Regions from separate parts of the Homo sapiens genome. Here regions 1, 2 and 4 are each linked to region 3. Evidence: fine-mapped expression QTL. A gene starts in region 3. Each other region holds a variant in brackets. All regions are shown on one strand. Distances are from middle to middle.

Evidence for each region. PIP is the estimated chance that this variant, and not a neighbour inherited with it, causes the effect.
Region 1: its variant is the best candidate, but not a certain one, in a credible set for the expression of KANSL2 in blood mononuclear cells (TOPMed, PIP 0.69).
Region 2: its variant is the best candidate, but not a certain one, in a credible set for the expression of KANSL2 in whole blood (INTERVAL, PIP 0.69).
Region 4: its variant is the best candidate, but not a certain one, in a credible set for the expression of KANSL2 in thyroid (GTEx, PIP 0.51).

What each region holds. Positions count from the first base shown.
Region 1 is chr12:48,628,774-48,631,461 of GRCh38, reverse strand. It overlaps the pseudogene OR11M1P. Among named protein-coding and RNA genes, the nearest start is that of SNORA2C, 24 kb to the left of the region's middle. The variant A/G (reference allele first, on the strand shown) is at 1,225.
Region 2 is chr12:48,660,088-48,662,775 of GRCh38, reverse strand. It overlaps KANSL2 (KAT8 regulatory NSL complex subunit 2), which reads left to right. Exons shown (of 10, transcript NM_017822.4): 8 at 2,157-2,410. Among named protein-coding and RNA genes, the nearest start is that of SNORA2A, 4.6 kb to the right of the region's middle. The variant AG/G (reference allele first, on the strand shown) is at 1,580.
Region 3 is chr12:48,680,652-48,683,339 of GRCh38, reverse strand. It overlaps KANSL2 (KAT8 regulatory NSL complex subunit 2), which reads left to right and starts at 1,102. Exons shown (of 10, transcript NM_017822.4): 1 at 1,102-1,153; 2 at 1,699-1,958. The coding sequence starts at 1,708. RefSeq lists silencers at 755-804, 845-1,054 and an enhancer at 1,135-1,404.
Region 4 is chr12:48,641,204-48,643,891 of GRCh38, reverse strand. LOC124902928 reads left to right here and starts at 241. Exons shown (of 1, transcript XM_047429953.1): 1 at 241-2,688. The coding sequence starts at 942. The coding sequence ends at 1,985. The variant C/T (reference allele first, on the strand shown) is at 1,642.

The DNA of each region.
Region 1 (2,688 bases), 52 kb after region 3:
GTTTATTCCCCATATTCAGCTTCCCCAGCACAGGCTGACAGTCAGGTGATAGGGAGCAGTGCATTCAGTTTTGCACCTATTTTACCTGCTCCCACTTCATCCAGCCCTCAGAGGGATAGAGTCCTTACTGCTGCACATTAGGTTGCAGGCATTTTCTGAGGAATGCTTGTGGTCTTTGTATCAGAAGTTGTTCAGCTGGAAAATCCCGTTGTCACTACTGCCATCAGCAGTTTTTTCCATTAAAGGCCTGGGTGTTCAAATTACTCTCACACTGAACCAAGCAGATCCCTGTGTCAGAGAGAGCAAAAGGTATGGATAGAAAAGGGAGAGTGCTCCATGATGAGAGGTCATCCAATAGGCCATGGGAAAGATGAGACATAACTTATGCTGTACTAGTGCTATCTGAAATGAAAATCCATTTTTAAGACTGAGTTGAGGCCGGGTGCAGTGGCTCACCCCTGTAATCCCAGCACTTGGGGAGGCCAAGGCGGGCAGATCACCTGAGGTCAGGAGTTCGAGATCAGCCTGGCCATCATGGTGAAACCCCGTTTCTACTAAAAATACAAAAAAAAATTAGCCGGGTGTGATGGCAGGCGCCTGTAATCCCAGCCACTCGGGAGGGTGAGGCAGGGGAATGACTTGAACTCGAGAGGCAGAGGTTGCAGTGAGCCGGATGGTGCCATTGCACTCCAGCCTGGGCAATAAGAGTGAAACTCCATCTCAAAAAAAAAAAAAAAGAAAAGAAAAAAAAAAAGACTGAGTTGAAAAAACTATGAGATCCTCAATGTCAGAGATCATTTATAATTCATATGCACTCCCAGTCCTAAGCAATAATTAGCCCATGGAAAATATACAACAATTTATTAAATGCTTTTATTAATAAATTTAGAATTTTATTCCAAATAAAATAATAATTATAATTATAATAAATTTATTAATTTGGAATTTTATTCCAAATAAATCCAAAATTATTTGGTGTCATTTTATGGAATTAAAATTGGAATGACCAGTAATCAATCAATCACAGTCTGTTTCCCAATCAACCTTTCCAGCCTCATCTCCCAGCCAAATACTCACTTGTATATATTCACTTTTGTTCTATATCCCAAGGTACATGCAAGAGAAAAGGTGGAAAGGTAGCGGAGGAGAATCCTTGGAAGGCAGCACAGAAAAACCATCCTTGGAAGGTTTCTCTACATGAGAAAGAGTAGGTTTGGCATGGAG[A/G]AAAATGAAGAAAGATATTCAAGGGAAGTTGAAATAGTTTCATTTCTTGTAACCAATAAGATGGATGGCTGAGATTCTCAATCCCTCTTGTTACCCTCATCATCACTTCCCCTTCATTCTTACAATCCCAATCTAACTCTCTTGTGGCACTAGTAGAATAACCCTGATAAAAACTTAGCTGATGTTCACTTGATTTAGAACTTTTCTGATCAAGTAAGAATTTAGTAGGCTTCTTATCTATTGCATTTCTAGAAACAGTATGCCATAGGTCTGTGTGAGTCCGGCTATTCTGATTGCTGATTTGACTCTGCTGTCCATTGTGGCAACCATGTACACCTTGCCTTTGGAGGTTGAGTGCTGCCACTTGGCCTCTGCCATCTCAGGATGCAGTCACTCCCATTGAATGTAGGTTTCCCAATTCAGTGACTGCAGTCCTCACCGTAAGGTCTGGGCTACAGTGAAGAGAGATTACAGAGCTCTTCAAGGATGCCGGGGCTTCCCTATTTCTTAGTCATAGTGAAAAGTATGTCTTCTGGGCCCTCTCACATGGGTAAGTAGGTCTTAAGTAACAAATCCACTCTAATATTTCAATATCCTTTAGCCGTTGAATCCTTTCTCTACATTAAATCAAGGCAGATCCAGCATTTCTAATTCACTTACTGTATCCCACCTTTTGGTTCATGTTTCAGTCAACCAACTAAACAAACTGTTAGAATCCTTCCTAGTTCCCCAAGCTGCAACATTAAATGCAGAATTTCTGCTTTAGTGAGCCTTGAAGGGAGAGTGAAGGGAAGGAAACCCAGATATTGCAGCTCCCCGAAGCCCACTAGGATCAGCCAGGTGGTCTGGTTCCCACTGTCACAAATGTATATCAATACATTCGGCTTTATTCAACTTTACGTTCCTTCCATCATCATCCCACAATTTCAAGATCTATTTCCATGCATGTTCACTGGATTTCTGTCTGTATAAATTAGAAAACCCAAGTAATTCTTTTGGATTGTAGTGCATGTCCTCATGGGTCACACTTTGTGCTCACCTTTAGAGGCCTGCAGGGACTTGGGTCTAGCTATAGTTTTAGAACCAAAGAGGAGTGATGGGTATGGGTTCTGAGGAGAATCAGCATTGTCTTGCATGGGAACTGCCCCAGGGGAGGCAATTACAGTTTCTTCAGGCAATGTGGGATTAATTCCCTCAGACAGGGACAGAGGCTGCTGTCGCTGGGGTTGGGGAAGCTGCTACCACTGGGGATAGGGAGGCCAATTCCAATTGGAAAATACAGTTACCTCATTTTGGTAGACATCCATTTTCAATCCCACAGTCTCCATCTTTTTATTGCAGTGGTCTCTAGTCCATCAGACTTTGAGGAAGGGGCTAAGCTGAAATCAATCCAGGAAGAAGTCAAAAGCTGTCCTGTCCTCCTTAGTGAGTGTGTCCTGGGATGAGCTGTCCCCTGAGCCTATG
Region 2 (2,688 bases), 21 kb after region 3:
TAAAGCAAAATTGAAAATGTATTTGAAAAGAGAAGGGAAGTATTTTTTTTCCTTTTATGCTCTTTCCTTTCCACTCCATAGTTGCCTAAGTCACTTACCCTTCCTTAAGTCCTTATCCCAGAGAAAGATGCGACTGCCATTGGTGACCTGTTAACTCTTTACTGTGGTCTAATGGAGACAGCACTCGACTGAAAGTGAAGGACCCAGACTCTAGTTGTAGGTTAACCATTCCCTTCTTTTTACCTCTTTTGCCCCATCTGAAAGGAAAGCGGGTGGAGGATGATGGGGGGAGTCCTTTTTTAGGATATTGTGGTATTAAATACATAAGAGACTTGTGAAAGTCCTTTGAATTCCAATAAAAAAAAGTTCTTGGCCAGGCGTGGTGGCTCACGCCTGTAATCCCAACACTTTGGGAGGCTGAGGCGGGCTGATCACCTGAGGTCAGGAGTTAGAGACCAGCCTGGCCAACATGGCGAAACCCTGTCTCTACTAGAAGTATAAAAATCAGCCGGGTGTGATGGCAGGTGCCTGTAATCCCAGCTACTTTGGAGTCTGCGGCAGGAGAATCTCTTGAACCCAGGAGGCAGAGGTTGCAGTGAGCCGAGATCACGCCACTGCATTCTAGCCTGGGTGACAGAGCGAGACTTCGTGTAAAAAAAATTTCTGGTTGAAACATTTAATGGATAATATTTTAAATATTAAGAGTGGGCTTCTTAAGCACATTAGATATTGCTTAGATTTTCTTAAGCGCATAGTGCAAATCTGATGATTCCCATTAGATTCATATGTTTATTCATTTGATCATTCAATAAATATTTGTTTGCCTTGTACTATCTTCTGTTTCTTTAGAGTAGTGGTTTTCAACTGGGGGCCATTTTGTTTTCCAGTTGGCAATGTGTGGAGAAATTTTTGGTTGTTACAACTCAGATGGAGGTGCTACTGACAGCTAGTGGATAGAGGCCAGGAATGCTGCTATACATCCTTCTTCCAACAAAGATGTACCTGGCCTACAGTGTTGGTAGTGCCACAGTTGTCACACCCTGCTTGAGAGTTTAGTTATTTCCAAGTATGCATTGAAAGAAATAGCTTTATTCAAGGAAGTTCATATGGTTTTAAAAATTATAATGTATGTTAGTTTTTTTATTTAAAAAAATTACCATAAAAGTTTTGAGTTGAAAATTATAACTCCATAATTCAGGTACTATCAGTTTAAGAAAAATTGTGTTTTCTGGTTAAAAATAAGTCAAATTTTAAAATAATGTTTATTAATCTAGGAAGATAACCAGGTAGTTAACAGATTTCAAGAAATGGTAGCACTTGCATAAAATGTGTTTTGTAAAGTAACTTGAATTTTATTGTATCTAATCATCTCAATTTTGGTTCATCCTACAGAGCTTCTTTGCTAACTTGGAAATATAGCCCTTTTCTTCTTCTACCTTTAACAAAAGTTGTTAATAGAGTCCTTGGAATGTTTCTAGAATACTTTTTTTTTTCAATGGGCCTTCATACACAAAATTTTCTTCTTCCTTTAGGATCATAAAAGGATTCCTCTGTACTAGCACACTCCCCTAAAAAAAAA[AG/G]GCATGTATATTTAATTTCTTGTTAGGATATGATACCTAGTGACTTTTACTAGAGCTCTGTTTCCCCCTATTCCAGTGGTGCTTTAAATGAATTTATCATGTAATCATCTTTGGAAACGAGGTCCAAGAAATTGTTGCAAACTTTGCCAGTCTGCTAAGGGAGCAGAGACATTGTATCGCTTGACTCTTTTGGAAGGGCTGTTTAGGGGCATTTTCAAGGCTATTTGCATTTGCCACTACATGTTTCTTCTGAATATGTGTGTGTTCCTAGGAGTGTTACTGCTACTTGCTTAAGGGAGAATGGGATGGTGTCTAGTTTAAATGACCAGGATCCTGAAAAGGAGGTTGGGGACAAGTTTTAAATTACTGGTAGAGCTAGAATTTGATGCTAGTAAATGACATTTATTTTGAGAAGTAACTTTAAAAATTGCTAACTGCATTTGGTATTCTGTATCAAATGTAGTTGTAATTTATCTTATATAGTCCACACCTTGAGTTTTATGTGGCAGACAATGCTATTTGTATTTTATGCTTTCGATAGATTGTGTTTTATTTCCCTTGACCATTTTTCTACAGATATTTGTCAGGATACGAATCAGGTTCTCTTCAAGTGCTGCCAGGGATCTGAAGAGGTACCCTGCAACAAACCTGTTCCTGTAAGCCTCTCTGAGGATCCCTGCTGCCCACTGCATTTCCAGTTGCCTCCTCAGATGTATAAGCCCGAGCAGGTACTGTCTGTGCCAGACGATCTGGAAGCCGGCCCCATGGATCTGTACTTGAGTGCTGCTGAGCTTCAGCCCACTGAGAGTTTACCTCTGGAGTTCAGTGATGTAAGTTAGAGAAGCTCTGCTTTGGTTCAGGCCCTTGAGACAAAGCCTTATTTATTAATGGTGAGAATAGGTTAGTCTTTGTGGTTAGGAGAATCGACAAAGTTTTTGAAGTGATATATACGTATAGTTGTATTTATATGTTAGCATATTCATTTAGAGAAATCTACCCTACCTTATATTTTTTTCCAGACTCTTCCCATACCTTTTTAGGGATACAATTTACATACTATAAATTGCACTCTTTGAAAGTGTATAATTGAGTGATTTTTAGTATATTC
Region 3 (2,688 bases):
ATTTTTATGATACCTGCATTATTTAGCATGGAATTTTAAAGACAGGGCACACAGTTATGAGAAGCAGCCCTAAACTAGAACAAATATTTCCTTATTCTCAGTCCAATGCTCTTTACTATATAAGAGGCAATAAGGGATAAAGAATGCGGGCTGGGTTCAAATTCGTCTTCCTTTCCCATTTAATAGCTATGGTCCCATTCTGTTCCTCAGTCCTCTTATCTGTAAAATGGACATAATACTAACCTGTACCTCTTAGGGTTGCTTTGAAAAATTCAATGACTTTATACATGTAATTCCCAGAATCAGTAAACACCCAAAAAATGTTTCTCAGTGTTCTCTATACCAAATGTTCAGTACATGTATTGAACTGTTCACAAAAGAAAGCTAAAGACTTTTTATGTGTAAACAGTGATCCTCCAGCCTCTGTCTGATTTATTTTTTATTTATATATTTTTTTGAGACGGAGTTTCGCTCTTGTTGCCCAGGCTGGAGTGCAATGGCGCGATATCGGCTCACCGCAATCTCCGCCTCCCAGGTTCAAGAGATTCTCCTGTCTCAGCCTCCCGAGTAGCTGGAATTACAGGCGTGCACCACCACGCCCGGCTAATTTTGTATTTTTAGTAGAGACGGCGTTTCTCCATGTTGCTCAGGCTGGACTCGAGCTCCCGACCTCAGGTGATCTGCCAGCCTCAGCCTCCCAAAGTGTTGGGATTACAGGCGTGAGCCACCGCGCCCGGCCTGTCTGTCTGATTTTATACTAGCTGTGTACAGTGGTGAGGGAACAGCAGCCTAGGACCACAGACTGAGGGTCCAAAAGTAGCCGGAAAACGAGCCACGCTGCAAGGTGGAAAAATATTAGCTGGCAACCCGCCCCGCAGCCCGCTCTCCGCCCCCTTCCCCGGCTCACTCTCCTCCGGGCGGAGTTGCTGACAGACAGTCTGTCTTAGCCACCCCAACCTCGCATTTTCTCAGCGCTCCGCCCTCCCAGACACGATAGGTAGTTGGTCTCGGCCAATGGCGACATCCTGTCATACGAGCGGTAGCCAATGAGTAGCCAGGAGTCCGGAAAGGGGCGAGGCCGATCTGAGAGCCGCTGGCGCCACTAGAGAAGGGCGAGCGGCGCGGCAGAGTGCGGCGCAGCGCAGCTCCTGAGGTAAGATGGCGGTGCTCTTTCCTCTAAGCTCTTGCGGTTGGGCTGCTATTTCGCTCTTTTTGTCAGCTCAGAGCTGCTACTCCGCCTCAAAGCAGTGTCAGAGTCAGTCTCCTTCCTGCAGGCTTCCAGGAGCCAGGATCTCCGGTGACTGGAGCCGTAGGACAAAATGGCGCTCGCATAGGCTTCCGAGGCCAGGCCCAGTCGTGCGCTCTGAGGCAGGCCGGGACAAAGGCGGCGTGCGGGGAGGCGGCGTGGCCGCCGCGTGGGGCTGGTGTTGTCGCTTCCCTTCGTGCTGCAGCTGTGCGAGTCCTGAAGATACATTCAGCGTGGTGTGGTTCGGGGTGGGGCCGGGCATGGAGGGACACGCTAAAGGGAGGCAAAGCCACAGATGCCTGTGGAGACTTGGGGAGGGCGGCGGGGACTTACGGAGCGTACCTTACGGGGACGACTTCTGCATGTCCTTTGGAAACTGTCCGCGCGATCTGTGTGGAGCAGGAATTTTCGGGAAGGGTAAGGGCTTTTTGGTCTTTCGTTTGACCCCGCAGGTTTTGGTTATGAACAGGATTCGGATTCACGTCTTGCCAACCAATCGGGGGAGGATCACTCCAGTGCCCAGGTCTCAGGAACCTCTGTCTTGTGCATTCACTCATCGTCCATGCTCTCACCCTCGTCTGGAGGGGCAGGAGTTTTGCATTAAGCATATCCTTGAAGACAAGAATGCACCCTTCAAGCAGTGTAGTTATATATCGACGAAGAATGGAAAAAGATGTCCCAATGCTGCCCCAAAGCCAGAGAAGAAAGATGGGTATATATGTATAGATATATATGTCGTTTTTCTTAAAGCGAGGGGGTATGTGATATGATGCGGGCTTCAGCATAGCTGCCGCGTTTGAGATTTTGTCCTTGTAAATTTGGGGTTATGGTTGTATCCTTGGAAAACTGAAAAAACGGTGAAGACTGGAAAGACCCTTGAGTTGGATTACTTAGTTCACCTCTTTGGTTCTTTTCCCTTATCTGTAAAATAAAGGCATATTCTAAATTAGTCTTTTTTTTTTTTTTTTTTTTTTTAAGAGAGATGGGGTCTTGCTATTTTGACCAGGCCGGTCTCAAACTCCTGGCCTCAAGGTATCCTCCCATCTCGGCCTCCCAGAGTGCTGGGATTACAGGCGTGAGCGACCGCGCCCGGCCCTAAAGTTAATTTTTTGGCGGGGGGGCGGCGCACAGATTCTTGCTTTATTCCCCAGGCTGGAGTGCAGTGGAGATCTCGGCTCACTGCAACCTCCTCCTTCCAGGTTCAAGCGATTCTCCTGCCTCCTAAGTAGTTGGGACTTAAGGCGTGCGCCACTATGCCCGGCTAATTTTTGTACTTTTTAGTAGAGACGGGGTTTCACCATGTTGGCCAGGCTTGTTTTGAACTGCTGACCTCAGGTGATCCATCCGCCTCGGCCTCCCAGAGTGTTGGGATTACAGGAGTGAGCCACCGCACCTGGCCCCTAAAATTCTTCTTAATGGAGGGGTGTGTGGCTCTATTTGGC
Region 4 (2,688 bases), 39 kb after region 3:
AGGCCAGGGTGGGAGTATCACTTGAGGCCAGGAGTTCAAGACCAGCTTGGGCATCATAGAGAGACAGACCCCCATCTCTAAAAAAAAAAAAAAAAAAAAAAGAAAAAAATTAGCCTGGTACAACAGTGCTGTGCACCTGTAGTGCTAGCTACTCATGAGGCTGAGGCGGGAGGATTACCTGAGCCCAGAAATTTTGAGGTTGCAGTGAGCCACGATCATGCCACTATACTCCAGCCTGGGCCACAGAGCGAGGCCCTACCTCTTAAAAAAAAGAAAACACACACAAACCAAAAGAAAATGTTAATATCAATAAATGTTTCAGTCAAATCTTGGCCTAGGGCTGTTTTATATTTTTAAAGTAACTTTGCATGTGTTTTATACAAGTCTTAGTGTGGAGTAACTCATTTTGCACCCACATGCTACCTAAAGCATATAGTCATGCACCACATAACATTTTGGTCACGGATGGACTACATATGTGATGGTGGTGCCATAAGGTTATAATATGGTATTTTTAGTGTACCTTTTCTATGTTTTGCTATGTTTACATACACAAATACTTACCATTGTGTTACAGTTGCCTATAGTATTCAGTGCAGTCACATGCTGTACGGATTTGTAACTTAGGAGCAATATGCTATACCATAGAGTGTAGGTGGGTGGTAGGCTATACCATCTCGGTTTGTGTAGGTGTACTCTATGATTGCACAATGATGAAATTGCCTAATGACATATGTCTTAAGAAGGTATCCCTGTTAAGCATATATCCTATTCATGACTTTTCTTTCTTTAGTCCCTCACCTGCTTCTCACTTGCCTTGTATTTGAGCATTTATTGACATATAGATGAACCTGATATGAATGAATATATTATTCATTATATTAAGCTAGTAGTGTTCTAAGTATGCTAGGTATTATTCCCTATGGTGTGCCAGAACTGTGATGGCATTGGTCTTATCCTTGATAAATAATGAATTCCTGGTAGCTATGTATATGGCCAATGCTCACAACTTTTTTTTTTTTTTTGGAATCTCCTATGTCTACTTCTTTCTACACAGACACAGTAACAATCTGATCTCTCTTTCTTTTCCCCACATTTCCCCCTTTTCTTTTCGACAAAACTGCCATCGTCATCATGGCCCGTTCTCGATGGTTGCTGTCTCTTCAGAGCTGTTGGGTACACCTGCAGAAAGGCTGTCACTTCACACTTGGAAGATTGCACAGCGGCCAGGCAGAGGTGCTCCTCACCTCCCAGACGGGGCGGCTGGGCAGAGGCGCTCCTCACTTCCCAGATGGGGTGGCGGCCGGGCAGAGGTGCTCCTCACCTCTCAGACGGGTTGGCGGCCGGGTAGAGGAGCTCCCCACCTCCCAGACGATGGGCGGCCGGGCAGAGGCGCTCCCCACCTCCCAGACAATGGGCGGCCGGGCAGAGGTGCTCCTCACCTCCCAGACGGGGCGGCCGGGCAGAGGCGCTCCTCACTTCCCAGACGGGGTGGTGGCCGGGCAGAGGTGCTCCTCACATCCCAGACGGGGTGGTGGCTGGGCAGAGGCGCTCTTCACATCCCAGACGGGGCGGCCAGGCAGAGGCACTCCTCACATCCCAGACGGGGCGGCCGGGCAGAGGCGCTCCTCACCTCCCAGA[C/T]GGGGCATCCGGGCAGAGGCGCTCCTCACTTCCCAGACGGGGCGGCCAGGCAGAGACGCTCCTCACATCCCAGACGGGTTGGTGGCCGGGCAGAGGCACTTCTCACTTCCCAGACGGGGTGGCGGCCGGGCAGAGGCACTCCTCACTTCCTAGACAGGGTGGTGGCCGGGCAGAGACACTCCTCACCTCCCAGACGGGGTGGCGGCCGGGCAGAGGCGCTCCTCACCTCCCAGACAGGGCGACCGGGCAGAGGCGCTCCTCACTTCCCAGACGGGGTGGCCGGGCAGCAGCGCTCCTCACATCCCAGATGGGGCGGCCAGGCAGAGATGCTCCTCACTTCCTAGATGGGGTGGCGGCCGGGAAGAGGCGCTCCTCACTTCCCAGACGGGGCGGCCGGGCAGAGGGGCTTCTCACATCCCAGACGATGGGCGGCCAGGCAGAGATGTTCCTCACTTCCTAGATGGGGTGGCAGCCGGGCAGAGGCTGTAATCTTAGCACTTTGGGAGGACAAGGCAGGCGGCTGGGAGGTGGAGGTTGTAGTGAGCCGAGATCACGCCACTGCACTCCAGCCTGGGCAACATTGAGCATTGAGTGAGCGAGACTCCATCTGCAATCCCAGCACCTCGGGAGGCCGAGGCGGGCAGATCACTCGAAGTCAGGAGCTGGAGACCAGCCCGGCCAACAAGGCGAAACCCCGTCTCCACCAAAAATACAAAAACCAGTCAGGCGTGGCGGCACGTGCCTGCAATCCCAGGCACTCGGCAGGCCGAGGCAGGAGAATCACGGGAGCCCGAGGCAGGGAGGTTGCAGTGAGCCGAGATCACGGCAGTACAGTCCAGCCTCGGCAACAGAGGGAGACCGAAGAAAAAGAAAGAAAGAGAGAGAGAGAGAAAGAGAGAGAGAGAAAGAGAAAGAAGGAAAGAAAGAAGGAAAGAAAGAAGGAAAGAAGGAAAGAAAGAAAGAAGGAAAGAAAGAAGGAAAGAAGGAAGGAAGGAAGGCAGGCAGGTCACAAATATTTGTTGAGTTAAATTTTTAGCATTACTAGCT